2 separate regions of the Homo sapiens genome follow, and region 1 is linked to region 2. Evidence: fine-mapped expression QTL. A gene starts in region 2. The other region holds a variant in brackets. All regions are shown on one strand. Distances are from middle to middle. Region 1 has its middle 100 kb from the start of APOOL. Region 2 holds the start of POF1B (POF1B actin binding protein).

Region 1 (13,320 bases), 480 kb before region 2:
CTATGCACTGTTTATTTTTTTACTGTGCTTATACATTACTTCTATAATTTCAAATGAAAGTTAAAGTACTATTGCCTAGTCTAACAGGAGAGCTAAAGCAAAACATTGACATTTGACTCTCCATCTCAAAAATGTTACAGAATATTTTAAGAGTGGTCAGGTAACCAGGTAGTTATTTATATGTGTATATGTCAAACGAAAATTTTCTGATAGCCATGGTTAATCCAAAGGAGTGCACACACTAGGGGTCTAAGAATTGAATATGACTCAAAACTTTACTTGAGTGTATATATTTTCCTTTTATCAGTCATTTTTAAAACTACCCCAGTTTCATAATGTAATTTTATTGGAATTAAAGTTGAACACTTTAAAATTGTATAAGCAGTTACTACCAGCTACAGCTATTAATCTATCCATATCTGCTATTATGTTTTTTTCCTAGGTTTAACCATCTATAGTGATAGCATGAGATAGATGGTTGGGCTTTACTGTTCTATGAATTCACGTGTGCCAGCTAATCAGATTATAAATTTGGGTAAATTATGTGAGACAGTAAATTAGGTTTTAAAAAATAAAGATGGGTAAAAATAATGTGACTGCTATTTAGTTTTGAAAGTCATCAAGTAGGGGAAGCATAAAAGATCTAACAGCTATATGTTAAATACTCAGGTATTTTTGTCATGATCTATTATTTTTCATCTTCCAGAAAACACAGAGGAATTGTTCACAAATAGAGACTCCACTTCATTTTCTCTTATTTAATTAAAAAGCGACCTTTTTTCAGATACTTGGGGATTTTTTTAACATCGTGATGGGATCATTTCTATAAGAAGCCCACCTTTGATGATTTCTAATATGTGCATAGATTTTCACTGTCATGATTTTACCCAATCTATTCTCAGTGAACAAGACCCACATTTCAAAATTGATGTTTTAATAAACCCTTATAACATTCATCCTTAATATAAAGCCAGTACAGATTCTTAAAATACAGGGATCCTAAGCAATTTCACCAGGGATTAATGGGCAAAGATAGGCAGGTGCTATAATTGGAGAACTGCGTTCTAGATCAAACTCTATCACCAACTAACAATAACATGACAAATATTACTTGGCCTTATTTCTCTATCTATAAAGCAAAGGATTGAGCTAGACGATCTTTAAAGTCTCTTCTAGCTCAACAATTCTGTGGTTCTAATGTGCTGAAAAAGAGTATATCTGGAAAAGCCCCCTTCTACAGTAGAAGGAAGTGGTAGTGGCCATAGTTTGAAGAAAAAATTTTGAAAAATTATTGCAATCTCAGATATCTCATCCTCCTCACACATTTATATATGTGTGAACTCACACAAAGTGACATACTGCATAAGCAATAGCATGGTTTTAGAAATCTAAGTTAAACTGTTATCTTCAGTAACAGGCTCTTAAAAGGTAGGAAAAATGTATAATTTGGTTTGGCTTTGTGAAGAGACCCATTCTCTGTGCATAAACTCTCCAAATTATAGTGACTTCAGTATTCAACTGAAACTTAAGGGAGAACTTTCTCATACTAGTATAACTGTGTGAGAGTCCAGAATAAAGCAACAGTAATTTGATAATTAGTATAACAGTTGTAAGCTGGACCCTGGAGTGATGAGATTTTTTTTGTTTGTTTTTTGTTTTGTTTTGTTTTGTTTTGTTTCGTTTTTGAGATGGAGTTTCGCTCATGCTGCCCAGGCTGGAGTACAATGGCATGATCTCGGCTCACTGCAACCTCCACCTCCTGGGTTCAAGTGATTCTCCTGCCTCACCCTCCTGAGTAGCTGGGATTACAGGCATGCACCATTACGCCCGGCTAATTTTGTATTTTTAGTAGAGACAGGGTTTCTCCATGTTGGTCTGGCTGGTTTCAAACTCCTCAGGTGATTCCCACCTCGGCCTCCCAAAGTGCTGGGATTACAGCCGTGAGCCACTGCGTCTGGCCAGAGTGATGAGTTTTTAAAAGTGCAACCACAAGTTACAATGGCATATAGTTGTAACAAAATTTTAATTAATATAATAATATACACTTAATTTTAAAAATAAAATAACTAATTTTATGAATAAATTTGCCTTGGGATTTCTAGGAAAAGCAATACATGCATTTAAGGAATTCAAATATGTTTTTCTTTCTTTCTTTTTTTTTTAAAAATTTTACTTTAAATTCCAGGATACACGTGCAGAACGTGCAGGTTTGTTACATAAGTATATGTGTGCCATGGTGGTTTGCTGCACCTATTGACCTGTCCTGTAAGTTCCCTCCCTTTGCCCCCCACCACCCAAAGAGGCCCTGGTGTGTGTTGTTTCCATCCCCGTGTCCATGTGTTCTCAATGTTCAACTCTCACTTATGAGTGAGAACATGTGATGTTTGGTTTTCTGACCCTCTGTTAGTTTGCTGAGGATGGTGGCTTCCAGCTTAATCCATATCCCTGCAAAGGACATGATCTCATTCCTTTTTATGGCTGCATAGTATTACACAGTGTATATGTACCAAATTTTCTTTATCCAGTCTATCACTGATGGGTATTTGGGTTGGTTCCATGGCTTTGCTATTGTACATGGTGCTGCAAAAAACACACGTGTGCATGTGTCTTTATACTAGAATACTTCATATGGGATTGCTGGGTCAAGTCGTATTTCTGGTTCTAGATCCTTGAGGAGTTGCCATACTGTCTTCCACAATGGTTGAACAAATTTACATTCCCACTAACAGTGTGAAAGTGTTTCTATTTCTCCACAGCCTCACCAGCATCTATTGTTTCTTGACTTTTTAATAATCACCGTTCTGACTGGCGTGAGATGATATCTCATTGTGGTCTTGATTTGCATTTCACTAACGATCAGTGATGTTGAGTTTTTTTTCATATGTTTGTTGGCTGCGTAAATGTCTTCTTCGGAGAAGTGTCTGTTCATATCCTTTGCCCACTTTTTGATGAGGTTGTTTGTTTTTTGTCCTGTAAATTTGTTTAAGTTCCTTATACATTCTGGATATTAGATGTTTCTCAGAGGGGTAGATTGCAAAAATGTTCTCCCTTTCTGTAGGTTGCCTGTTCACTCTGATGATAGTTTCTTTTGCTGTGCAGAAGCTCTTTAGTTTAATTAGATCCCATTTGTAATTTTGGCTTTTGTTGCAATTGCTTTTGGCATTTTTGTCATGAAGTCTTTGCCCATGCCTATGTCCTGAATGGTGTTGCCTAGGTTTTCTTCTAGGGTTTTTATGGTTTTGGTTTTTACATTTAAGTCTTTAATTCATCTTGAGTTAATTTTTGTATAAGGTATAAGGAAGGGGTCCAGTTTCAGTTTTCTGCATATGGCTAGCCAGTTTTCCCAGCACCTCTTATTAAATAGGAGATTCTTTCCAATTGCTTGTTTTTGTCAGGTTTGTTGACAATCAGATGGTTGCAGGTGTGTGGTGTTATTTCTGAGGCTGAGACTAAATTTTCATGTCTATTACACTGAGATGCTCTGAAGAGATAAAAGAGCCAACGTCTGATTTCAATCATGTTCTTAATGTTGTTTACCTTGGCCATAGGAAATGCAAGAGATGGCTCTGGAAGAAAAGACAGTCTAGAAGAATCCCCTTTTTTAAATGGAAAATATACTGGCTTATTGTGAAACAGTCAACTCTCTACTGGTTGCTTCACAATGTAAGTGTACCAGGAAGGAAAGTAAGTCTATCTATTATCACTGAATTACAGTGAAAAACAGTTAAGTGTTTATTTGTGCCAAATAACAGTTATTTTTGCTTAAACCATAACTTATTTAAATTTTAGTTAGAGCTGTACAGTTTTAGGCTCTCTATCTACACATAGAAAATGAGATCACAAATTGTTGGAATTACACCATTTGTGGCATCCATTATGTAACAATAAAATGATAGCCCGGAAATATACTTTTTTCCTAAAATTGCAACAAAAATGATAAAATACACAAGAATAAACAATATAAAATGTGTAAGATGTGTGAGAATAAAATGTAAAATTTTCATAGAGGAAATGATAGATAAATGTTGAGTTATATGGCCACATTTCTGGCTTAGAACAGTCAATATAGTAAATACGACAAATCTCAAATATTTCAAATTAACTTTAAATGTAATGCTACTTTAATCAAAATTTTGATGGGATTTTTTCAGAGGTTGACTCTAACTCTAAAAGTTCATCTGGGAGAATAAAAACTGTGAGAGAAATCCCAGATAAAAATACTAAGTTTAATTAGAAGGTAATCTACCCCAAAAAATTCTAAAATATACTCTAAATGTATAATAATTAATATACTGGCAAAAATAAAAATATATAAGTATTCTAGTGAAATGAATAAGAAAATCCAGAGACAGGATAAATATGTGAAAAATATGTGAAAAATATACTAAAGGCAATATTTCTTTTATTATTATTATTATACTTTCAGTTCTATGGTAAATGTGCACAATGTGCAGGTTTGTTATGTATGTATACATGTGCCATGTTAGTGTGCTACACCCATTAACTCGTCATTTACATTAGGTATATCTCCTAATGCTATCCCTCCCCCATCCTGCCACCCCATGACAGGCCCCAGTGTGTGATGTTCCCCTTCCTGTGTCCAAGTGTTCTCATTGTTCAATTCCCAACTATCAGTGAGAACATGTGGTGTTTGGTATTTTGTCCTTGTGATAGTTTGCTGAGAATGATGGTTTCCAGCTTCATCCATGTCCCTACAAAGGACATGAGCTCATCTTTTTTATGGCTGCATAGTATTCCGTGGTGTATATGTGCCACATTTTCTTAATCCAGTCTATCATTGACGGACATTTGGGTTGGTTCCAAGTCTTTGCTATTGTGAATAGTGCCACAATAAACATATGTGTGTATGTGTCTTTATAGCAGCATGATTTATCATCCTTTGGGTACATATCCAGTAATGGGATGGCTGGGTCAAATGGTATTTCTAGTTCTAGATCCTTGAGGAATGGCCACACTGTCTTCCACAATGGTTGAACTAGTTTACAGTCCCACCAACAGTGTAAAAGTGTTCCTATTTCTCCACATCCTCTCCAGCACCTGTTGTTTCCTGACTTTTTAATGATCACCATTCTAACTGGTATCAGATGGTATCTCATTGTGGTTTTGATTTGCGTTTCTCTAACAGCCAGTGATTATGCACATTTTTTCATGTGTCTGTTGGCTGCATAAATGTCTTCTTTTGGAAAGTGTCTATTCATATCCTTCGCCCACTTTTTGATGGGGTTGTTTGTTTTTTTCTTGTAAATTTGTTTGAGTTCATTATAGATTCTGGATATTAGCCCTTTGTCAGATGAGTAGATTGCAAAAATTTTCTCCCATTCTGTAGGTTGCCTGTTCACTCTGATGGTAGTTTCTTTTGCTGTGCAGAAGCTTTTTAGTTGAATTAGATCTCATTTGTCAATTTTGGCTTTTGTTGCCATTGCTTTTAGTGTTTTAGACATGAAGTCCTTGCCCATGCCTATGTCCTGAATGGTATTGCCTAAGTTTTCTTCTAGGGTTTTTATGGTTTTAGGTCTAACATGTAAGTCTTTAAGCCATCTTGAGTTAATTTTTGTATAAGGTGTAAGGAAGGGATCCAGTTTCAGCTTTCTACATATGGCTAGCCAGTTTTCCCAGCACCATTTATTAAATAGGGAATCCTTTCCCCATTGCTTGTTTTTCTCAGATTTGTCAAAGATCAGATGGTTGTAGATGTGTGGTGTTATTTCTGAGGCCTCTATTCTGTTCCGTTGGTCTATATCTCTGCTTTGGTACCAGTACCATGCTGTTTTGGTTACCGTAGCCTTGTAGTATAGTTTGAAGTCAGGTAGCATGATGCCTCCAGCTTCGTTCTTTTGGCTTAGGATTGTCTTGGCAATGCAGGCTCCTTTTTGGTTCCATATGAACTTTAAGCAGTTTTTTCGAATTCTGTGAAGAAAGTCATTGGTAGCTTGATGGGGATGGCATTGAATCTATAAATTACCTTGGGCAGTATAGCCATTTTCACAATATTGATTCTTCCTATCCATGAGCATGGAATGTTCTTCCATTTGTTTGTATCCTCTTTTATTTCATTGAGTAGTGGTTTGTAGTTCTTGAAGAGGTCCTTCACCTCCCTTGTAAGTTGGATTCCTAGGTATTTTATTCTCTTTGTAGCAATTGTGAATGGGAGTTCACTCATGATTTGGCTCTCTGTTTGTCTGTTATTGGTGTATAAGAATGCTTGTGATTTTTGCACATTGATTTTGTATCCTGTGACTTTGTTGAAGTTGCTTATCAGCTTAAGGGGACTTTGGGCTGAGACGATGGGGTTTTCTAAATATACAATCATGTCATCTGCAAACAGGGACAATTTGACTTCCTCTTTTCCTAATTGAATACCCTTTATTTCCTCCTCCTGCCTGATTGCCCTGGCCAGAACTTCCAACACTATGTTGAATAGGAGTGGTGAGAGAGGGCATCCCTCTCTTGTGCCAGTTTTCAAAGGGGATGCTTCCAGGTTTTGCCCATTCAGTATGATATTGGCTGTGGGTTTGTCATATCAATGGGGCAAAGATGGATTATTCAATGGATAGTTTTGGGTAACTTTCAAAAAATTTGGAAAAGAGAAATATACCTGGATCACTATATTATATAAATGGTATGGTTTGGCTGTGTCTCCATCCAAAATCTCATCTTGCATTGTCATAATCACCAAGTGTCAAGGGTGGGACCTGGTGGAGATAACTAAATCATAGGGGTGGTTTCCCCCATACTGTTCTTATGATAGTGAGTTTTCATGAGATCTAATGTTTTTTGTTTGTTTTTTGAGATGGAGTCTCACTCTGTTGCCCAGACTGGTCTCAAACTCCTGGCCTCAAGCTGTCTTTCCAGCTCCACCTCCCAAAGCACTAAAATTACAGGCCTGAGCCACTGTGCCCAGCCTGAACCCTTTCAATAGCCTCTGACCTGTCTCCCCATGTTCACTTTGGCCCCCCTCTAATCTGTTCTACCATTCTAATCAGAGAAACATTTTCTTAAAATATAAATGTGATCATATCACCACTCCTTCTCCTCACTCCACTTTTCCATCCATCCCCTTTATTTAAAGCTATCAATAACTTTTCATTATTTTTAGACTAAAAAAAATCCGTAAAAAGAATTACCAGGCATTGCATGGATTCTATACCTCTCGAGTCACATCTTATACCATGCACCACTGTGGTTTTTACATTCCAGCCATGTTGGCCTTCTTTTAGTTTCTCTAATGTGTTAAGTTCCATCCACCTACAGAACCTCTGCATATGTTTTCCATTTTTCCTATAATACTCCATGACCTGGGTAACTCCTAGTCTTCCTTGAGAGCTCACTTTAATATATGATTCTTTTAGGAAAGCCTTCCCTAATCCCTCCCTGCCCACCAACTTGATCACTTATTAGCTCTCATAGCATTATGTACCTCTACTTCACAGCATTTAGCACACTCGTAATTTTACTTTTGTTTTGTGACTCTTGTACCAATGTCTGTCTTCTGCTTTCACAAGTACTACCTCTCTGTTCCCAGAACTTCTAACCCCAACAGTTCACATGCCTCAATATGTGGCACAATGTATGTTGCTCAATTGATATTAACTAAATTAATGAACAGTTGTGATGATTCAATGAATTAATGCATGTAAATTACCTTTGCATAGCGTCTATCACATAATAAGTCATCAGTAAATATCACTCCTCATCATATTATTCTATTCCCTCTTCTCCAAC[CA/C]ATGTGAAAAATCTTCTATTTCAAATGTGAAAATTTTTAAGACCAGTTATGAAATATCAAATCATTTTATATTGTATTAATAACCTGATGAATATCATTCATCTTATTCTTTTCCAAATTAAACAGAAAAAATACTAAATTGTATTCACCATGTTTTCATTTCACTGACAGAACATTCTTACAATTAATTATCTTAATACAAGCTAAATCAAAGTTCCAGTGCCTTTTTTAATGGATCGGCTTTGTGAGCATTTTTTTCCATGTGGCCTTTTGTCAGATTATTATTAAATGTATGAGATTTTGATTTTTTAATTCAGTGATTGCTAGGTTTATATTTTTATATAACTTTAATAGAATCTTTCCCTTGGGAATTGTAATGCATGTTACAAACATCACAGCATATCAATAGTTGGTTCCCCTTTTTTATTCTTGAAGAAATTGTGACTCAAAAAGAATAAGTGACTTGGTAAGCATTGGTATAATTATAACAACCAGATCTTAGTAACCTCTATAAATAAGTTGAGTGATGTCCAACCTTTTGCCATTTCATGACAATTTCTTAGAAAAATTATGGGTTGCTTGTAATACCAGAGAGAGGGAGAGAAAATGGTATATTAAAAAGACCACATTTCAAATACTGCTCTGTGATGCCCATATGCTAAACAATTTCATGCTTGGCAACTTCATTTTTAGATATTTTTAAAGAGTTTTCAAAATAAAAATAATTGATGTATGTAATAACCATCCTATATTAGGAAACTTAAGGTTTAGAAATACGTTAAATGTTACTATCACCACCCTTTTCTGGCCTTTTGGGATATATTTTTTCTTCTGTATGTATCTACATGTATGTATTTCTTCTGTTCATGCCCTATTGATGTTGAGAACTATTTGTGTATTTTGAAGTAATTCTGTGTAGTCATTAACTTAAGAGTATGCTGTTACCATAGCTGGTTTACTAAATTCATGGTCCATTCACTTTGCAGAAAGCTATTAATATTAGGTTGATGCAAAAGTAATAGTGGTTTTTGCCATTACTTTTTCACCAACCTAATATCTCAAATGCATGGTAAGCAAACTGCATTCTTTCTTTAATAAACAGTCTACAAAACTGTTGTTCATTATCACTCTGGTGACCTGGCTCTTGGCTCTTCATTTCAATGGCTAACACACTCTATTCAGTTTTTTCTTTACATCCTTTTTTTCTTTCCCTTTTCCATTTCTTTTGTAGAATATCAAGGCTGAGATGATTTTATATATCCACCTGAATTCCAAATTGACTTGGCTCCATGTTGCAGAAGAAACCAACAAATACATCCTTAAGTTCAAAGTCCAGATCAGCACTGTACAATAGAAATATAATGTAAGGTACATATATAATTTTAAATTTTCAAATAGTTTGTCCAGAATACCGGTGTTCCAGCATTATGCTGTGACTGGAATTTATGAATAATAGATTCTATAAGATTAACACAATAGTTCTATTACTTTCAAATTAGCTTACCACTTTAGTTCATTTTTCACCTTTCTTCATTTTATCTGCAAAATATTAAAATTACCAGTTACCTTTCTTTGGGGGAAGAGTCATAGGATTTATATATTTTTATCAAGTCTTTTTCTAACTTACTATATTACAATACCTACTAATTTACAATGTTCTTCAAATGATATGCTGCCCATCCTATAGCCAGATTCCTATAATTAAAGAATGTGTGCATAAAATCATCAGCAAGCTTGGGAGAAGAATCAATCAGCATCAAATTGTTCTTTTCCCTTTTGTTGACTTAATAAAACCACATACATTAACTTAGTTCTACAACCAAGGACCTATAGGAAATCAGGCAATGGATCAAAAAGAAATAGAATGACTTCTGCTTCTGCTCTGGGCTAATATTCTAGAATATGTATGATAAATTATGTTAATGGTTGTAACAAATTTTGAAGAAACTCAGTCGAAGAACTTGGAAAAAATCTACCACCATCAAAATAGCAGAAAAAAGCTTTGGAAGCCAAAGTCATCCATTTAGTTTATTATATAAGTGCTAAAATTAAGATGTTTGGAGAATACCAGTATAGTACTAGGAGATATTGAAGAGATAAGTATCTATAAGTTACTAGATGTCATACTTTCTCTATTAGGTTATATTCTTACTATTATATATCTTAGTATATAATATATAATTATATATAATATATAAGAAATACAATAATATATGATATACATTACATATAAGTCATAGCATATAGTTTATATAGCTTCAGAACAGATGAAATGAAACTTGGGATGATTCAGGGAAGAGAAATAAATCCTAATCACAGGGATATAAAAATAGATTCCATGAAGAAAAGTTAAATAAATCAGTGTGTTTTAGTGGTAGAGTTACATAATTATTACAACTTAGTATTTTTAAAAAATTATACAAAAAGGCAGTTGAAAATTAAAAATAAAATTGCAAAAATACGTGTTTAAGTTGAAGCTGGAGAGCTTGAATTATCTATAAAATAAAATATATGACCAGAATTGGCTATTGAGGAAAGTGATATAGTTTCCACCTTTTAATATCTTAAACTGTGTCCTGGAGGCTTAAGTATTCAAGCCTGAAGTAAGAAGTAGAAACAAATTGCTTTTTTTAAGTAGCTTTCCAACTATAAGATTGCATAATTTTTCATTAATGTGGACTAGAGAGTATGTCTAGACAGTACTTACCTGTGTGTAAGATATTGCCCTGAAAGAGCTTGTAACTTTTACATTTGTCCCGTGATGTGGAGGAGTGATTTATCTACCAGTGAAGGAGATGAGGAAGGGCAAAAGAAACCCATTCTTATTTTCAAAGTGGAAGAGATTTAGCTACTCAAAAGCCCAGGTCATTTGACACTAGGGGTAATTCACTAAATGGTAAAAAGAATAAACAGTCGTATTAATCACATCTCTAACAATTTACCCTCAAATTCATGTATATTGTTAACAGATAGCTCCCTGGACTGAAAACTTTGGGTATTCTAGAATGGAAATTCCTAGGAATAAAAGTTGGCCCCTGCCATCTAGTGGACACCATAAGATTATTTTCTTTCTAATATTTACCTATATTTTGGTTTTGGAAAACAGAAACCAAATTAATACAGGACTTGGTGAATCATTGTCAGTACTATATTTCTTTATTTTGCTCAGAACTATACCTTTCCTTTTTAATCAGTGTTTCATATGTTGGTCACGCCACAGAGGTGGAATGAATCCCCCACCCTCAACCTCAACTTTGGTTAAGAGGTCAAGACACCACATACACACCAGGACACTATGAAAATGTTTATTATTTGCATAATGATGCTTTCCGGGGAGAGCAAGACAGGCATTCCTGCCGATCCAAAAATAACTTGAGGTCAGGGTGTGGTGGCTCAGGCCTGTAATCCCAGCACTTCGGGAGGCTCAGACAGGAGGATCTCTTGACCCCAGGAGTTCAAGACCAGTCTGCACAACATAAGGAAAACCTGTCTGCATAAAAAACTAAAAAATTAGTAGGGCATGGTGGCAGGCATCTGTGGTCCCAGCTACTTGGTAGGCTGAGGTAGGAGGATCGCTTGAGCCCAGGAGGTCGAAGCTTCAGTAAGCCATGATTGCACCACTGCACTCCAGCCTGGGTGACAGAGTGAGACTCTGTCTCAAAAAAAAAAAAAAAAAAAAAAAAAAAAAGCTTAGTTTTTCTAATATTTAGGAGCTGAGGCTGGGATTAAGTTTCTAGCATATGAGGGAGAGGGAGGAGGGTAGAGCTTGAAAACTATCAGCAATCAAATATCTAAAGTGGAGTCAGATTATTTATTACCCTTCTTAAGGGATATTTTGCCCTATTAGACTAAATTTAAGTCTATATAAGGAAAATGAACTACATAATTTACATTGACTATCCTAGTAGACTAAGTGGGTTATTCTGCTAGATTATATAAAGATACTATTGCTGATTCTGTGATACCAATATTATGGAATTGCAGAGAAGAAATATTTCTATTCAAGTTTATAATGTTTTCTAATGTATAAATACTTAACAGACTGAAAATTTCAATTTTAAAGCAGATAAATTAATAATTGATAACTCACATTATAAAATAATCACATTACAAAGTAACCTTTACTTAATAACTGACTTTTTTTAAAGTAGTGAGATTTTTTTAGACTAATGATACTTTGCCTATAAGGTAACCATTTTTCAGTGAGAATATATGATTTAGAAACAAATAGGAATGACACGCATCTCTTGTGAATACATTTATTGCAAGGATCATGGTATATTTTTAGTTTACTACTTGCACAAACAATGAGGAATATCCCCATTTTTTATTGTTGCTGCTATTATGTTCGACTTCAATTCCTTTTTAGGTATAACCTACACTTTTAACCTAGACTATGTTGAATTATTTATTTTTTAACATCATAATTCCCTTTGCCTTTTGGAAACAACCTAAGTGCCTTAAGCTATAAGAGTAACTTTGAATTTCCACTGCTGGATTATCACTCAATTGCTGAATTTCTTAATTTTAATAAGAATTGTGTTTGGATAAACCTTTTGTCAATTGCAGTAGATTTATACTTACTATAAAAAACAACAACAGCACAGAAATATAGTGGCTTTAAAATACTTAAAATTAGGGAACAGGAACACTGACACATTGAAGGATCTGACTATGAAAAATGTTGAAACATTGATATATAGAGAAAGAACATTCACTGAATTTGATTTAAATACAGAGTAAAAACAAAAGACTTGAAGTCTGAGCAGGGCATATCCTTACTTGAGTTTGACTATTTTAGTTTCAGTAGTAGTATACTCAAACAGAATCATACCAAGGATAATGGATATTGTGCATCAAATGTTGACTTACTGGCAGAGATTGCATAAGAAGAAAATTAATGAGTAATAAAGGTCAGCTGTTGTTGATGCAGCAAACTTTTTTTAAAAAAAATTCCAGATCTAGGTAAATTATGGGAGAAAGTGTTCATGTAGTGACCCAATATACGAGAAGCAAGATTGTTAAGGACATTATTGTTTAATTGTACATTTGCACATAAGATAGCCTTTTACAGTATTAATGATATTGTTTTGTTCTATATAAATCTTTTTGTGTTTTATGCTGTTTTTAATGGATATCACACAGCCTTAATTGAAAGTGTTTGGTCCTTAGGATAAGGCACATTTTAGAAAAGAAAATTTTAAGTTGTGGGAAATGGGCACTTATTTATTTTTCTTCTCATTTGGATTAAGCACGTACATAAGAGCCTGTTAGAGGCTAGAATGGTGGGAATGAAACAAAACAAGTGGATATATACAAGATACCTTTAGGAAGTAAAATCAACAACTTGGCTACAGGAATTGAGGGAGATAATGTGTCAAGGATGACTTCTAGGCTTCTGGCTTATATAACAAGATGGATTTCATTGTAATTTTCAATGAGATATGGAACACTGGAAGAGGACCAGAATTTTAAGGACGAGACTAAGAGTTTGGTCTGTGGACGTGTAGAGTTAGAGGTATCTGTGAGACATCCTAGGGAGTTTCACATAGTTTCCTCTTAGCCTGGAGCTCAGA
Region 2 (13,320 bases):
CAGCTGTACTAAATAGGCAAGTTATTTTGAGCTATTCGAGTCTCAATTTCCTTATTTGTTTAACAGATAAATAATACACAATGAATATTGTCTTTATTTGTACATCGTACAATTTGTACAATAAACATAATAATGCATGTTTTATCTAATTGTTGAGGTTCTATCAAGTTGTTTACTAGATAATCATATACATGGAAGAGTTGTGAAAAACAAAAAACCCATGTATTAATATGAAATATTATTTTCACTGGATTGATTATATATGTGACTAAGTTACTAACTTGCAGTTTCTTTACTACTTATTGTGTAGTGGCATTGAAAGAGATACAAATGATGTTAGAATATAATCTCTACCCTCTCATGGTTATAATCATGTAGGGCATAAACACTATGAGTACAAATAGGAATTAAGTAGACTATCATAAGACCTATAAGAAGCTCACTAGGTAAGTTTTGAGGGCTAAGAGATAACTTCAACCTGGGACAATCAGAGGATCAGAAGGTTACACTTGAGGAAAGGCTTGAAAAATTTGTATAATTTCAGGGTGTCTAGATTGGTGAGGGTGAGGAGCAGGAGCAGTTCAGATGTAAGAGCAATGGAGTGAAAGACATAGCTGTGGAAAATTGGGGACTTTATTTAGAGAACAATCATTTACACTTAGCTAAAACATAGGACACCAGAAGGAGAGTTCCAGGAAGTTCCACAGGAGCCCTAACATGGAGGGCCTTGAAAGTCAGACTAAGCAATTTATAGATACTTAGTGTCATTGAAGGTTTTTGCAGCAGAGGAGTGATATGGGATGTGTATAGGGAATTTAAGCAACTTTTCTAGAGAACATATTCTTAGGTGTAATTAAAGTTGTGGAGATTTTAAAATTAATATTCCTAGGGACTCCAACTAGACTGCTTCATAGTTCTATTCTGCCAAAGTTCACCTCATGATTGCATATTTATTTACAGCTCTTCCTGAGACATTCCACATAGACCTTTTTGGGCATTTTCTTCATACAATTTTCTCTGCAATTGGTCTTTAGACTGCAAAATCTGAACCTCTTCAGTCAAGACCTGTTGGCTTCATTTTCCTGTTGATAGCTGTGGTCAAAGAGCTCAAAAGCCTGGTGTAAGACATACAAGAAAGACTGAAGGTAATGAGAATTAAATCATAGAGAATATTACATACGTAGTGCAGGCTTTGTTTCTAAATATTTGGAAACTTGCTAACATGAAAGTATAACTCTTTATGTTGTCTAATTTGAATTTTAAAACTTTACATAAAGACTAATATACAGTATAATATTCCATGAAGGAAAACCATGGAAGGTTTGTGTATGCTCCTGTTACTCCCAATGACTATGAGAATCACTGAAGGTAATAATGGTGAGTTACAAATACTCTAGGCTGAACAGTTTCAAAAGAAGCAATATCTTTAAAAACCACCTGACATTTATGCTGACAGAATTTGCCAAGGCAAACCTCCATTTGAATAAATTCCCTGAATAGTATGGGAGATGTTTTTGTTAGGATCTTTCAAAGCCATGTAACATAGTTAAACACCTGTCTGAGGTTATTGTTGAGATGTTATACTCAACTTATATAGCAAGAAACATGTTATTTATAATAATCTCTCTTTAGATGAAATAAACACTTCTTTGATTTAGGATAAAATCTGTGTTTCTGTTGTCATACAAAGAAAGCAACCGAATGTATAATAGAACTACTTCCTGTTCCTCCTTCTCTCCAACCCAAATCCCTCATTTAAGAGGTCCATATTGGGTTCTTTCTCTTCTTTTTCTGAAGAAAACTAGGAGACAGAGAGAAAATAAAATACACAGTCTTTTTTGCAGTGCATGCTTTCTGTCTTTAAAAATTATGAGTATATATACTTTATTGAAAATCAAAAAATGACCTCTACTGGGATAGCCCCTGGTCTGAAGAAAAAGTTGGCTGAAATATATTTATTAATAAAAGTTTTAACTTTTAAATAGGGCTTAAGAGCATGGCAAATTTCCCAATTGTTTTGTCATGAATTGTCAAGAAAATAAACTTGAAAGGACAGTTTCCCTCTCTTCCACTTGCCACCCTCATATCTTGCCACACACACACCGTGACAGCTTATGAGTGCCTTTGACTGAAAACAGGCCCAGCAATTTATCAGACCTCCGTTAAACAAGATACAATTGCCATGGGCATTTTCACTCAGCAATTAGTTGCACTCTCCAATTTCTATAGCTTCATTTAATTGTAAGCACAAAAGAGGAGACCAAAGCTGAAAATGCAACCCCTTTATCCTATGACCTCATTCTTTTTTCAGGCAGCGCACTTCCTTGAACAATCATTCACTTTAGTGACTACGCCCTTGAACAACAATTTATCAAAGCAGCACACCCCTCCCCACAGAACGGGAAACTTTTCTGATAGTGGAAGAGAAGAGTTATCCACAATCTTTGCAACCAAAGAAAAAGCACAAAAAAATCATATAAACAAAGGTAAGCCCCAGCTGAATAATTGTTGAGAACAGAGGTCATTCGTAAACACACATTTTCCCCCAGGCTGCTCTCTAGAGTTTCTTTGCAAGTTTCAAATTCAAAAGAATGGCAACCCTTATAACATATACACTAAAATAATCCTTCTCTCACAAAAGCATGTTTTACTTGATAAAATGCTGATGGTCACAACACAAAATACTCCTTTAAAATGAAATATAGATAGACACATGGGACACCTACAGACCAGGCTCTGTATGTCTGTCCTAAAAATGAACTCTCCCTGGACAGGTTAATGGTATTTATCCAGAAAATCACAGTGTTTGCTAAAAAATAGGCACTTAATAAACATGTATTCAGTGAATGACTGGTATTTAAAAATATTTTATTTTAATCCATTTTTTCTCTCTCACATTTTTTCTCTCTCATGTATACAGCTGCTCTGTATGCATGAAAAATACCTCGAACTTCATGAAAACCTTAATTAGTGGAAGGAAAGAATGTTAGCCCAATGAGTAATTCATATCAATGTTGCTCATTTAAGGCATTTCATTTTGAGTTAATGATGGTAGGTTAACAGCTAAGCTTTGTAAAAGATTGAACTAAGAATTTTTGTTTTACTTTAAGCTTCTAGAACTCTATTTATTTGCAAGACCACATTCAGTTCTAAAATGCATCTGAGACCTTGATTATATCTGTGTTTGACTATACGTGTTCATGCAGATAAACCCAGTAATTTTAATTCTACCATTAATTTAGAAAATTTCACCAGCAACTGGTTTCTACACTTAATTTTCTCTGAGAAACACTCTATCAATCAAACAAAATAATAACCAAAAAACATAAAATATATGTTTAATTAAAGAAACAAAGTAACATTATATATCTAGATAAATTTAAAATATGTTTATATCCATAAACACCATTTTAGTGCACAAGAGGTTAAGAGAATAAAAGCATGTACTCAAAAGCTAGAAATGGAAAATAAAGTGCTACAGAAAACATTTGATTAAATCGAAAATGCCTACTACATGACCTAAAATTATGATTCAGGAAGCAAAGCAGAGTAGCATCAATTTTGGTTTCTCAAAGGCAACATATTTTACTACTGGTAATATTTATTTTAAAATCTCATTAATTCCCTGAATGTCTTCCAAAAACCAAAAGGCAAAAAACAAAACAAAACAAAACAAAAACAAAGACAAAGTAAAAGTTTAACTGAATTCATGATGATCAACCATTGATTGTAAAATCAATTTTTCTTGCTGCCATGGTCACAAACTCTGGTATTAGGCTAATTGCTACACATCAACTCATCTGAAACGTGGTTTATTAAGGATAGACTTTATTGAAACATAAAGTGAATTAAGGGTTTTTGAGTAATATGTACTGCTTGCTCATGCCTGTCATGGTACATTATACATACCATCACATTATACTCATTTCGTTAGCATAAAGGTAATTTCAGATCAAATCTAGGTCCTACTTTACATGATGCCACAATGCCATTCCATCAATAAACAGGGAGAAAGGAAAATAAAATAGAAGAGTTTCCTCATCATATTCTTTGTGACAGCTATCTAAAAGCTGTCTTGCCAAGTTCTCTTTTAGTGGATTTGTGAATGCCCTTTGATATCCAACTCAGTTTGAAAATTTATAGTCAAATATTCTTTCTTCTTGTTTCACTAAGGAATTAATACTTCTTTTTTTCCCTTTACCACATAGCTTAACTTTCACTTTTCTCATTTTCTAACAGCACTTACTTTTCTTCCTTTTCAATAATAAATAACTTCAGACTTCACAGAGCCCTCCATTCTAATCTTTTATCCCAGTTTCTGCAGCTGCACTTTCTAGCCCTAAGTTGTTTATAAACTCCTGTGTGGCGAGCTACATTTTAGGAAGGAGATAGTCCATTTTTAAGGATCACTTTGGCAAATGCCAGGTAAAATAAGGAAAATCTTGTAAAAAGCTCAACCAACTTGATCCTGAGTTATTGAAAGGGGAAGCTGAACCAAGGAGTAAATAATAAAACATACTCCTAAAAATTGTCCGGTAGCCAATATTTATAATTTGTCAAATTTCAGCTTTTAAATATCTATTTATGTTTCTTTTACTAGCAAGTTGACAAAAAAGGGGTCTAAATATGTTTAAATAGCTATGGCAGATAGGATGATTTTAGGATTCCTAAGATAATAGTAATTGTTTTTAATCTGCACATCATTGTTTTTGAGCTACAATAAAACAAAGGTGGCATTCATTTTGTTCTGCATTAGCATCTCAATATGAATATTGGAGTGCACATTTGCATTATTTTTATCACTAATGCAAACTGGTATTTATGACCTTTATATTTTTCTTCTCCTTGACCTCAGTATAAGTGGAGTTTTTCTCAACCAGTTGAGAAATGTTACTTTATATTCTACTCAAATTTGTGGGTTTTGGAAAAATAATATGTATTACTCCTGATTGGTAATAATAATGTAACATAGCATCATATCCCAATGACTGCTTTTTGAGATTTTTGTATCTTAAAAACATAATTTCAGTTTGGACAGAATTTTCCAGAAAGCTTAAAACATGCAAATTTAATGTAAAAGGAGTCAGAGGATAAAATACACATAAAGCTGTTAATTTTATACAGTCTTGCAGGGTTACCTTGTATTTATTGGGAAGGTTATTAACACAGGTATTGGTGCTAAGAATAACTCTTAAGAAACAAACGTATTTCATTTTATGGGATGTCTTAGAGTTCCATCTTTTGTAGCTTTCATGTAACAATTGCTTACATCTTGCCTTCCTCAATCCTATATCAACTCTTCCAGTACTCTTTCTACAAGTATTCCATAAATTATTCACCTAGGCTGTACGATAAAAAGTGTGTCATTCTTGGAAGATGAAACACATATGACAATTCAGACATCTGCACCTCTCACTTATCCTGGAGCAGCTATACTATTTGCTGAGCACAAATAATTGCTTATCACTCAGACATGCCACAGTACCTGTATCACCATATTTGATACCAAAAAAAACCTGTTTGCTTCTGATATGAAATTAATCAGTAGGAACTTGTTCTAATAAAAATCTACTGTACTCAAGTTGAGAACTGCTTTGCAGTAGGGGCAAAGGGATTCCTTGGATCAGATCTTTCAGTCAGATCAAACAGAAAATGAGCCTTCCTATACTATGGTTAGATTATGAAAATCAGTGAAACCCGGAAACAAACAACCACAGACACTAGTAAGTGAAATAACAGCCAAGAGATGAATTTGGGTGACTATCCAAGGCATATATAACTGCAATCCACCAAAAGATATCCTGTGGAATAGAGGCAAAGAAGCAGAAAGGAAGAGAAATCAGGTTGAAGATTGCCTTTCTCCACTAGTCTGGCATAGCTTTCTTTGTTGTACCTGAGAATGGTCGCTCCAAACCAAATTTTGGTAGGAGGAGGTGGTTTTGAGAGGGGAGAGCACTTCCCGTGAGTTGAAGGGGTCCAAGGCCTGCACCACCTTGTTCATGGGCCCACTGTAGGTCCTCACTCGCTCATACACTACATTTTTTTCTGGAGGCTGCTGGGCTTGGCTTGACTGATGGTAGCAGTGGTAATGCTGGGGCTGGCACTGCAGCACCTCTGGGAGCTGCTGGGTTCCACAGCTGCTGCTGCTCGTCTCACTCCAATAGCTCGAGCTCATCTTCTTCCAGTGGTCAGCAAGGGACCTCCCAGATGTTCTACCTAAGGAACAAACAGAGAAATATAATGGAAAAAAAAGACAGGCAAGCAGGCAGTCAGGCAGGCAGACAGACACACGACACACGTGTGGAAACCGCTTATCAAAACCTCTGCCAATAGTGGTGCCGGGAAGAGAAGAAAGCTACCTGAGCAGCAGCAAGAGCAGGTCTGGCAGCTACAGAGGAAGCAGCAAAATATTTGAGCTCAAATGGAAAATGGAGCCACCCTGTGACATTGCTCCAGGAAATGGTACTGACACGCCCTTAGGGGCGGATTCACTTAGCAGGTTTACATGCCAGGAGAGGCCCTGCCTTGCCACGGAGATAGCTACAAGGCTGCCCAGCAGGTAAAGGAGTCTGTGAAGAGCAGAAATGTAGAATGTCAGGGATGAAGCCAGAGTTTCCAAGCACATGGGCTTAAAAATTCACAAAGACATGAAAATGCAAAAAACTTGCTAGAGAAAAAAAGTCACACATGTTATATGAAAGTGTCTTTTTATGGTTCTTAAGTTTAGCAAAGGTAGTTACCAGCATAAGTATTATTATTCCAGATTCCCAGACTAAAATAATGAGTATTAGTCTAGGAATACACCAATTTTCACAGATAAATTTGCATTCTTTGCAAAACCCATCTGATAATTGCAGTTAAGGAAGATTACTAAGGGGTCTCTTTCTAGTGACTCTGTCTAATATATGGACTTGTTTATCTTACTCAAAGCCTCGTATTCTTTTCTATCATTTGTTGAAGGAAATTTGTCTAAATGATTGAATTGCTGTATAGAAAGGTGGATGGTCAAGAAAAACCTAAAGATTCCACAAATGCTTTGCATTTTGGCATTCACATTTGTTGTTTTTCATTTATGCAAGGGAATTTCTCCTGCCCTTATATGTGCCCTAGGAAACACTGAGTTTGATTGACTTTTTAATATCTAGTTATTAAGGGAGCTGCAAGTCCTGAAAGATGCCTTAACTGACATAATGAGATTTAAATGTGTTTACAACTTACATTTATTACTACTTGAAATTTTGATCATAATGCCTACTTACCCTCAGATTTTGCTATGCAATATACTTCAGCACCACTTAAATCCAGAATACTCTCATTCAAAGTGACTTTAGTAAAAAGTATCTTCCTAATGTGTATATGTGCAATAGGACCTAGTATACTACCACCATTCTAGAGAGGAAGAGAATGTTATCCAGGGGGCTAGCAGCATTTTTTTTCTGCCCAGTGAACAAAGTGTTATGATTTACTATTCACTCTGTGTCAGGTACTGTTCAAGGGGTTTTATGTGGATTATAATTATTTCATCATTGAAGTGACTTTATGAGGTTTATAGGTGAGAAACTGAGGCACAGACATGGAGAGTTTGAAAAACTTTCCAAAGTTAAATAACCTGTAAATGGTGGGCCTGGCATTTTAACATATGGAGATTCATATTAGAGTCTAAGCTCTTATCTGGTATATTATACAGCTAGATAAATTCTCAAATTGTTCCATTTTACAGCTACATAAATTCTCATATTGTTCTGTATCCTGCCATCTAATAAATCTTCTAGATGTCAACATCAAAAAACACTTCAGAAATGCTAGCCATGAGAGACTTTAAAGGAATCTTTAGATTTTCTTTTATGGCTGAGGAGTGTGCAAAAAGCTGAAAATTACCCTTAAAAACTTTTAAGTTAGTTATTACATATTTACATTTATATTTGTGTGTTGAGTGCAGACCTGTCAAATCTGATCCTTGCTCATTTTAATGATATTCCTCAAGAATCAATTAAAATTTTATTAGAAATATGTGACATGTTAAACAGCCTGGTAAAATATCAGATCAATAACTTACTAATATCATTAGCAGTATCACTTTGAATAAACTTTATGTGTGAACAGAGAATAGGGGTTAAGTGGGATCATCCAGTCAGCTTTGATTCATGATAAAAATATAAATTAAACACACACACACACACACACAAACACACATTCATGTGAGCACACAGAATACTGTAAATATCTGCTGCAGCCAAGAAGTGACCTATTAAATAAAGCAAGAGATTGAGATGAAGAAAAAAATTTCCTTTATCCATAAACTGGTGACCATACCTGCCCTTCACATATCTTGGATATATAGTGTTTTGAGCCAACTTCCTTGATACAGTTTGGCTACAATTTGTGTGTAAAGCTGATACCTTCACCCAATATCTGAGCCTCATTCATCACTGTTCTCCATCTCTGGGTATGAGGGACAGAGAGCTTGAAGCTTAGGCATAGTATATTAGAAATGAGATTAAGCACTATCTGGCACGCAAATCACATCTAACTATGAAGCAGGTGTTGACCACAATTGTTCATTTCGGAAAGGCTTATTAATCATTGTCACCAAAATTTCTACTTCTCTGACAACTCACTTGTGCATCACATGATCGGTTTCTCTAATTGGTTTTTCTCCTTTATGAGGATGATGTTCATACTAACACATTTTTGATTAAGAAATAAATATAAATATGTCTTTATGGTAGTAATAACACTTGCCCTATTTTACACTTGAAAATCCAAGGGATTGACATTCTGTATTCTGCATCCTTCATGATTATACCACCCTTCTAACATTAGTGAATGGAGTAGTAAGAGTTGATTCCTTATTCTTAACTCCAGATTTTTTCAGGTAATCTTTAATTAAATTTCCAACAGTTCTTTTGTTTCACACAGTAATGGAGATATTTTATGCTTACCACTGAAAAAGCCTCATTTACAATGACAGATTTGGGGGACACAATTGGTAACCCTTTACAAGTTAATTCAGTTCTAACAGACTTAAGAAGATCTTTATTGCTTTTGATTACAAAAATAATTCATTTTTAAAATTTCAAATGAGTAAATACATGAACAAAGTAGAAAATTAAACTCATCATACTGATAATAGGAGTAAGGGATAGAGCAAGGAACAGAAATGTCTGCTGCACACTTTAATGGTAATTTTTAAAAAAACAATGATTTACATTTTGACTGAGTTGTCTTGAAGGTCATCCGAAAAAGTCCTGATTTGACCTACTGAGGTTGTTGGAAAAACACAGTTGCTTCTATACTCTCACAATACAGAACACTTCTGTGACCCCAGATGTGTGAGGGTTATTTCCCTACCCAACTAGTAAGTGATCAGTTCTACAGTGGACACCAGCTGTGTGTCCTCTAATTCAATCCTGACACTATCTACTTGGAGATAGCATTAAAACTCACAGGTTGAGGACTTTCAGTCCCACAAGACTGTCCCCATTCAGACACCAGTCGCAAGCCCCAGATCATTGTACCTGTGCTCCTGACCAACCAGCTATCAATCAGAGTTCATATGACCCCCCTCCTTGGATTTAATTAATTTGCCAGAGCGCTCACAGAACTCAGGGAAATACATACTTACATTTACTGGTTTATCATAAAGGATATTATAAACGATTCAAATGAACACCAAATGGAACAGATGCATAGGGCAAGGCACAGAGCCTCCATGTCCTCTCGTTATGCTCCATTCTCTAAGAACCTCCACATGTTCAGCCATCAGGAAGCTCTCTTTGAATCTAGTTATTTTGGAGTTTACATAAGCTTCATTATGTAGGCATGATTGATTAAATCATTAGTCATAGGCTATCAATTTCAACTTCTCTCCCCTAAAGAAAGGTGGGGCTTAAAGTCCCAACCCTCTAATCCTGCCTTGGTCTTTCCAGTGACCAGCTCCCCTCCTGAAGCTACCTAGGGGATGCCAACCCTCAGTCAATTCATTTGCATATGAAAATATATTTATCACTTTAGAAATTTCAAATATTTTAAGCGTTGTATGCCAGAAAACAGGGAAGAAGACCAAATATCTATTTCACAATATCACACCTACTTCATAAAATTGTTATTAGAATCAAATGTGAAAGTGTTTGCTGATTTTAATATAGTACCCAGGCATATGATTTTAAAATATGTTATTCACAGATAATGTGTTATAATTTTTGTCAAATAGTAGGCTTTGAAAAGAAAATATGAATGCCAGAGGAGGCTATAGGCCTGGTTTATAAAAAGCTTAGCTACCTGAAACTGTTAAGGTAAAACAAATAGGTAATTAATTTATCAAAAATGATATATATATATATATAACTATCTTAAACATTAAATCATAAAGGTAATTATAAACTTATCATCAAATATATTTCATCAGCATCAGTAGTTTTCATGTGTATAACTAATCCTGCACTCCACCTTCTATTTTATGGGGATGATGCTCAAGTCTATCTCTAGCCCAGCCTCACCCCCGGGGCTAATGATACAATGGCAAAAGATAGTTAAAGCAAAGTTACTCAAGTCTTTTTACTTCTGCGTTCTCTATGATCAAGGAGAAGTATGTACACACTGGAAAGGATCAATAACCATTGGTCCATTCAGAGGAAACTGAAGCCCCAAAGTAGATGAGATGACTGTATGAAATCACTTACGTTTTACTAAATGAGTCCAATTCATTTGATTCTGCAGAACTACATTCCAGCCTTCTGACAAAGTTGAGCTTGTTTAACTGCTGTTGAGAAACTTTAGACTGGGAAGTGTTTCAGATTATAATATATGAAAAAACATCTGTCTTGATTTGGAAAAAAATGAATGGCAGAGTTTACAAAGTGAGTATGTCTGACATCAGTGCAAGTCAAAATTCTATATCAGACTATAAAGTGTATGATGATACATATGCCAAGAATAGAGATAGGTGATCCCCGAAAAACTTTTGGTATCTCTGCTTCATGGTCTCTGAATATCTACTCTTAAAGTCAATTTTACCAGTGGCACAGTTTTGTTCAGAACTAACTGATCCCAGTGTTCCAAAAACCATAGTAGATAAAATTATATTTTGATTCTAGACAAAATAAATAAATCCTCAGTGTGATTTGAATGAAGTGGAACCAAGCCTCTATGATCCTGGAAAATCCCCAGGGATGACTGACCTCTCCTGTAAAAAAAGATTAATTTAAAGCAGCATTTCTCAAAGCTTGTCCTGAATAACACTAGTTCTACAGGGTCCTATACCTGGGAAAAAATGTTTGTGATCAAATGAGTTTAAGAAATATTTGGAAATACTTGGTTAAATATAATTTGTGAATAGTTTTATTGCTATAATACTTCTATCCTTTCCTAAGCTGATGTGCACCATGATCTTCTAAATGGATCAATCGTATGCAGTGTTTTTCAAGTTTTGTTGGTGATAAAATATATTTTGTGTGTCATATTTTGTGTTTTTCTGATTTTTTTTTCTTTTTTATGATTTTTTTCTTCTGCATGCTTTTGGCTAGACTCATATAGTAAGAATTCATATCTAGTTTGTAATTCTACTTATATAATAAAAACATACCAAAGACCATTTGATCAGCCACATTACTATACTAGTGATACTCAAGTGAGATCCATGAACCTCATTGGGAAAATTTTTAGAATTGCAAATTCTCAGGCCCCACCCCAGACCTACTGTGTAAGAAATCCTGGGGGTGAGGACCAAGGATCTGTTTTAAAAAGCTCTCCTGGTGATTCTGATGTACACTAAGGTTTGGATATCCCTGAACTATACCAATATATTGGAGGCAGGCTTCAACAAAAGAGGACGATGGTAGTGGCACGAAGATGAGACTTCCTATTAGGGAAGAAATTGTAAGCAGCTCAAGAATAGGTGACTAGAAGTCTGCATGCAAGTAGAAGTGAGCTATGACTCTGGATAAGAGTCAACACGTTCTACATATATGGAGAAGTTAAAATGGGCCTGAACTATAGTGTAGTACATTAATTATAGCTACATAAGGTATTCTGGCAATAAAAATAAAAGAGGATAATATTAGAGTATACCAGAAAGCTGCACACTATAGCGTTAATTAATGTAGTTTTGCGGTCAGATAGGCCGGGATTTACATTCTGGTTCTACCATGAACTAGCTCTATGGCCTAACAAACTATGTTACTTTCCTGACCTTCTGTTGCTTTTCAATGAAATGGACGATAGCCCCTAACAAAGAATTTGGTGTGTCCATTAGATAAAATGCATGTGAAGTGTTTAGCATGGTGTGTGGTACCTAGTAGCTGAACAACAAATGGAAATTCTTAACATTATGCTCTAGATCTGACTTGAAGGAAAGGAAGAAAGGGCTTGCCATGACTTTGCAGATAGAAATATGTCTGTAGCAGAACATATCACGTAAGAAGGCCTTACTTGTGAAAAGGGAAGACAAACGGAGGTAGGGAAATGACCAACGGCATAGTCACAGAAAAGGCTCAATCAATTTACCAAAAAGGAAAAAGTAGAATGAAGCTTGAGTGAAAAGCAAAGGCAGTCATTTATAATTTAAAATGCTTGGCTATGATGGAAGACTTTAGTTGGAGGTAAAGTCCTGTGATATCTCTTCTAGGTGTCTGTTTTGTAATGTACAAAAATTGTAAAGAGTAACTTAAATGTTAATTCATTGATTTAGAATATATGTACAAAAGTACTCTTAGCAAGCAAGAAGAAAGGAAGTAATAAAAATAAGAGCTGAAATAATTGAGATTGAGAACAGAAAAGTGGTAGAGAAAATAAATAAAACCAAAAGATGGTTCTTTTAAAAAAAATTAGTAAAATTGATAATCCTCTGACAAGATAGACCAAAAAAGAGAGAAAATACATATAACGAAATCATGAATGAAAGAAGGACTCCACAGACATTAAAATAATAATGGAGTATCTTATAAACAATTTTATGCACACACATCCTACAACTTAGATGAAAAGGACAAATTCCATTTTCATTAGGAAATGAACCAATTCATAGTGAGAAATAGACGAACTACCACAACTCACCCAAGAAGAAATAGATAAACTTAATAACCGTATATAAATAGAAGAGATTGAATTCACAGTTATAAACTTTCCAAGAAGAAAAATGCTGAATTCCACCAAATATTTAAGGAAAAACAATGCATTTTCTTTTTAAAATGTGTATTGAAGAGGTACAGGTGCAGTTTTGTTACATGCACAGTGGCGAAATCTGGGCTTTTAGTGTAACCATCACCCAAATAATGTACATTGTATCCATTAAGTAATTTCTCATCCCTTACCTCCCTCCTA

The links. PIP is the estimated chance that this variant, and not a neighbour inherited with it, causes the effect. A credible set is the group of variants that fine-mapping cannot tell apart.
Region 1: its variant is the best candidate, but not a certain one, in a credible set for the expression of POF1B in atrial appendage (GTEx, PIP 0.84).

Annotation. Positions count from the first base shown.
Region 1 is chrX:84,896,756-84,910,075 of GRCh38, forward strand. No RefSeq gene overlaps it. Among named protein-coding and RNA genes, the nearest start is that of APOOL, 100 kb to the right of the region's middle. The variant CA/C (reference allele first, on the strand shown) is at 7,744.
Region 2 is chrX:85,373,280-85,386,599 of GRCh38, forward strand. POF1B (POF1B actin binding protein) reads right to left here and starts at 6,386. Exons shown (of 17, transcript NM_024921.4): 1 at 6,360-6,386; 2 at 5,894-6,216. The coding sequence starts at 6,175.